2 separate regions of the Homo sapiens genome follow, and region 2 is linked to region 1. Evidence: fine-mapped expression QTL. Tissue or cell type: whole blood. Region 1 holds a variant in brackets; the other region holds the start of a gene. All regions are shown on one strand. Distances are from middle to middle.

Region 1 (2,684 bases):
TCATGCCTGTAATCCCAGCACTTCGGGAGGCTGAGGTGGGTGGATCACCTGAAGTCAAGAGTTCGAGACCAGCCTGGCCAACATGGCGAAACCCCGTCTCTACTAAAAATACAAAAATTAGCCAGGCGTGGTGGCACATGCCTGTAATCCCAGCTACTCGTGAGGCTAAGGCAGGAGAATCGCTTGAACCTGGGAGGCGGAGATTGCAGTGAGCCGAGATTGTACCACTGCACTCCAGCCTGGGTGACAGAGCAAGAGTCCATCTCAAAAAAAAAAAAAAAGAATATGTACACAGGAGTTAAAGGCCTAGGTTTTGAAAATCTTGACTCTGCCAATGACCTGTGACTTTAGAATACACTCAGCTCCTCTGAATCTCTTTCCTCGTCTGTAAAATGGTAATAGTGGCACCTACTCCACAGCGTTGCTATGAGGATGAAGAGGATGATGCATAATGTCTGCTACGTAGTAAAAGCGCAATAAATGGAAACTATGATCACGGTGATGGTATCACCAAGAAAAAGATAGTGGTGGCTATTTCCACCACCTAGTGGGTAGAGAAAAGCACTTAAATTGTAACACCAAAAAATGTGAATCAGGAAAGTGGGATTACCTCTGAGGGAAAAGAAAAAGAACGCAGTCAGGGAGGAGCAAATAGGTGTGCTAGGAAGGTTCTATTTTGAAAGTTGGGTGATAAGATATATAGTTGTTCATTTTATTATTTTTAAACTATATATAAGCACTCTTTTTATACACAATCCCAATTAAACAAAAATTTTAAGACTGTCAACAGAGATAAGGCTGTTTTGAATCGTTTGGCAATTGTTTCCCATGTATCTCATGACTTTCGTTTCACATGCTGCTGAGCTCATGCTGTCCTGGCTGAGGCAATGGACAGCCTGAGTATCTGAAAGGATACAGTGTTTCCAGTGAGTAAAGGCGCGCCGCAGGGCCATCTTCCTGGCCAGTTTCTCCACCTGGGCATGGTGAGCGTACAAGCTCTCCCTCCGCTCCCAGGCCTGCTGCCAGTCACAGAAGTATATCTGGAGCACAGTGACATGATGGAATCGCTCAGCCATCTCTGCAACAGAGAAATAACTTAAGTGCTACTCCCCTAAGGTTAGATGAGCTGGAAACATCTTTAAGACAAGCTGAACCCCACTACTGGCAGAGAGCAGGGGTTCAAGGCCACACACACACACACACACACACACACACACACAC[ACG/G]CACTAAGTTTTTTTTTTTTTTTCTTTGAGTTGGAGTCTCGCTCTGTTGCCCAGGCTGGAGTGCAGTGGCGGGATCTCGGCTCACTGCAACCTATGCCTCCCAGGTTCCAGCGATTCTCCTGCCTCAGCCTCCCAAGTTGCTAGAATTACAGGCATGTGCCACCACCCCTGGCTGATTTTTCTGCATTTTTAATAGAGATGGGGTTTCACCATGTTAGCCAAGCTGGTCTCGAACTCCTGACCTCAAGTGATCCGCCCGCCTCAGCCTCTCACAGTGCTGGGATTACAGACGTGAGCCACCGCGCCCGGCCAAAATACAAGTTTTTTAAACCTTGAAAGGTCATTAGGAATCCCTGAGCTACATCTCCTCTCTCCAAGGAAAGAGAAAAGGTCTGTGATTTTAGGGAGGAGGATGCTATAAAATCAGTTACATCAAAGGGCTGAGGCTTCTAGTTAGATACTGATGAACAGAAATGAAAACTGTTACTTTCAAAAAGGACTGTTTTACTTTTGCTTCTAAACAAATGTCTCCTGGATAGGACTTAGAGATTGAGTCAATGACATAAAATTCAGTTGCCACGCTGGCATAGGCTTTTTTGAGCTTTCAGCCAACCTGATCCTGGCTGCCAGCTTCATCTCCTTTTAATGCTAGTCAGATAATGGTCTGATGAGCTAGGGCCTGGGAAGGGGATGGGAATCAGACCTGGAATTTGAATGCTGTAATTGGAGGCAGGCATTAGTCTATAGCTTATCATACTAAACAGCTTAATGCCTTCACATTCCAGGACTGGGCAACTGGACTGTTGGTCTGGGGTCACTATCCTCCAATGAACATATTCAAACTCTCCCAAGAGACAGTGTTGGCAGCGTAAGAGATTTCTGCAGGGAGGTTTGGGTGAACGCCAGAGACCCTTAACCCAGTGTCTAGCACAGTGCTTGACTTACTTTGGTATAAACTCAATAAACTTAAGTTAAAAAGTGTACTAATGTTCACATTTCTATGTATTATTACTTCTGAATCTAATTGGGAAACAAAACCATATAAACAGTATCCAAAAAACTCAACATCAAAATCACATGCATTTGCATAACTGGAGACAAACAGAAACTATCCAAATATCTATTAATAGGAGAATGGCTAAGTATATTAAGGTAAGCCATCCTATAAAATATGAATAGTTGTTAAAAAATAACATTTACGACAAATACTTAAGATGTAGGGAAGTGTTGATTAACTGTGTGGAAAAAAGGAAGATACAAAACCATAGGTTATCAACATATTAATCAAAATAATTACAATACTTATAGCAAAATGAAAACCCTATTTAGATAAAAAATATACAGAAGAGGCCGGAAACAGTGGCTCACGCCTGCAATCCCAGCACTTTGGGAGGCTGAGGCAGGCGGATCACCTGAGGTCAGGAGTTTGAGACTAGCCTGGCCAAAGTTATGAAACCCCAT
Region 2 (2,684 bases), 85 kb after region 1:
CAAGTGTTTCCCTCTGCCTCTTGCCTGTAAAAAAACAGTTTGTAAGAAACACACTTTATTCAGTAATACAAACGAAAAGTTTTCTGTTGCCAAGATTCACAAGAAGGGAGCTGAGTTAGTGGTCACTCACTGCCCAACACCCTAATTTCACAAGTGAAGTGAAGTTCCAACAAAGTAGGCCTCTTGGAAGAAATGTAGACGTTGCTGTCCTTTAACCAGGAAAATTGCGTTCTCGGGACTTCACGCCTATGTATCGCTTCACACCAACGCTGCGCAGTACCACAGGGCAGAAATGGGTGCTTGTGGTATTCCAGCACATAGGACTTCCTCCCCAGGATGCAGTTACCCACACTGCTCACATATTTGCATTTCTGTGGCCCCCTGTCAGCCTGAGTCTGCACTACGTGGTAAGCACTTGACATTCGCCGTCTCATTTCCCCAACTCCACTCGCACTTCCCCTTTCTGTGCAGGCTAAGGACAGATTCAGGTTACCGGAGGGAAACAACATTTCAATGAATTTGTTAGTCGCCTTTATCGCTATCAAAGCCAATCGTGACAAGTTTGTCTTTTAATGCAGCAACCAGTACTCGCGCATAAGCCTCATAGATTTACAGAGGCCATTTTAGAAACACGACCGAAACTTAGGTTAAGTCAGCTTTGCCTAAGATCACGCCACTCGCAAAACAGCTGAGGTTCGAACCCGCACTGGGAAGGCTCGGAAGACCCCAATCTCCTATCTCAAATTCCCACTGCCGAAGCCCCACGGTTCTCTGCCTATGCGAACCATGCAAATACAGCGGTCGTCGCGCCACAGGCCGTGCTAGCCGCCAGCCCAGCCCCATCTAGCCACCGCCTCCGGGAGAGTGGCGTGCCGCGAGTCGCGGGTCCCAAGTGCCGTCCGCTCTGCCCTGCAGCGCGCGTGGGAACGCGGCGGCGGTGGCCTCTGGGCTGCCCACGGCGACCGCCTGCGCGCACGGGAGCGGGTTTCCGCTATCCCCACCGTGGCCTCCTCCTCGCCGCCACCACCTTCCCACCCCCCGGCCCGCGCAGGGGCTGGCGTCCGGGAAGCGCGCGGCGATGCTTCTTTTTCGCCCGGCACCGCTGCAGCCACCTCACATCCGGGCGCGCGGCGGGGAAGGCGGCGCCGGGGCCAGGGTGCGTGGAGGGAGTTATTAAGGGGGAGGGGGCCGAAGAGGAGGGGCGGAGGGCCGGGCTGCAGTTACGGCGGCTGAAGAGAGACAGCCCAAGCCGGTCGGGGTGGGGGCGCGAGAGCGAAGGCTGCGGGGAGCGGCGCTGGGACCGGTGCGGGCAGCGGGGAGGGGAGCGGCGGCCGAGGCAAAGGGCCGCCGAGCGGCGGAGGCACCGAGTAAGGGTCGGCGGCGGTGGCGGCTGGGTCCGGGGCACCGCGCGCCCGGTGCTCCCGGGTGTAGAAGGGGCGCGGGCGCATTGCTCCCGGGGTCGCGTGCGTGAGCGCGGGCGCCGGGGCGCCCGCAGGGGGTGGGCAGGGGCGCGAGGCCCGCAAGGCGGCCGGCGGGTAGCCGGCGGGCTGGCTGGCGGGGACCGAGCCGCCGGGCCGGGGAGGACGGCTGCGGGCCTGCGCTAGCTCCAGCTTGAAGCGCCCGGGCCGGGAGATTCGGCCTCCCTCCTCCCTGCGGCCGGCCGCCCCTCAGTGAGTACGGTCTCCGCCCTTCCTCCGAAGGAGGCCGCTGGGCCCGGGCCTGCGTGAGGGGCTGCGGGTTGGGGTCGCGGCCCGGGGAAGCCAAGTTTCGGAGCTGAAGCCGGTGCTCGCCCTTTCCTTGCCATCGGCGCCCCTGACATGGCCACAGGTGCGGCTGGCCTGGCGAGGGGCGCTCGGGCCCCGTCCCCAGTCCCTGATCGCCGGATAACAAGGGGCAGCTGGCGCCGTCCATTGGCAAGTGACAGGCACTTTCCAACAGACTTCGCGGGTTCCCAGCCTAACCAGTCTTCTACCTGCCCCCACTCCGGGAAACTTCCCCACCAGTCTTGAAAGATCCCCATGGGTGGCAGCTACTAATCTTGGTTTCTCTTGTGTTAAAGCTGCTTAAAGGTTATATACCTTGAATTGGGCACCTTCTACTTTTTACCATGTTGATGCTTAGGATACTAGGAAAGAGAACTGAGTACCAATGATTCTATCTCCAAGTTCTAATTTATAGCATAATTTTGGGGTGGGGACTTGTTTTTAACACTAGCTGTTTTGAGAGATTAAAAAGTTTCAGCTTCTGAAGAAACAGCCAAGATTTCTGAAAACTTACTGTTCTCGGTGACAATTTTGTGCCGATTTATCTTCCAGGTGCAGAGCATTGTAGACCAAGGAGCCATGGATAGGAGAAGTATGGGTGAAACAGAAAGTGGAGATGCTTTCCTTGACCTGAAGAAGCCTCCTGCCTCCAAATGCCCCCATCGCTATACAAAAGTAAGGTTTGCCACTAATGAAATAGTGTTTCTTTTTAGGTGGCGAAGTTAGTAACATTGTATAACTATTTCATTCCTATTAAGTGGTAATCTCATTCTGACTCACTACATGGACTAAATATTAACTAAATTTAGTAGTGCATTACTTTGAACATTTTTCTGCAAGTGTAGATACCCAGCGTTTAAGCTGGAATTTGCTTTGAGAGGCTTTTAGGTGAAGGGAATGTAGGCTTAGATTTTTTTAAAA

What was found. PIP is the estimated chance that this variant, and not a neighbour inherited with it, causes the effect.
Region 2: EIF4ENIF1 starts here. The variant in region 1 is fine-mapped to the expression of EIF4ENIF1 in whole blood (INTERVAL, PIP 0.94).

What each region holds. Positions count from the first base shown.
Region 1 is chr22:31,573,625-31,576,308 of GRCh38, reverse strand. SFI1 (SFI1 centrin binding protein) reads right to left here. Exons shown (of 33, transcript NM_001007467.3): 10 at 917-1,078. Among named protein-coding and RNA genes, the nearest start is that of MIR7109, 47 kb to the left of the region's middle. The variant ACG/G (reference allele first, on the strand shown) is at 1,222.
Region 2 is chr22:31,488,377-31,491,060 of GRCh38, reverse strand. EIF4ENIF1 (eukaryotic translation initiation factor 4E nuclear import factor 1) reads left to right here and starts at 1,219. Exons shown (of 19, transcript NM_019843.4): 1 at 1,219-1,367; 2 at 2,316-2,438. The coding sequence starts at 2,343. RefSeq lists enhancers at 205-264, 664-1,286, 1,287-1,910 and silencers at 815-1,464, 1,545-1,834.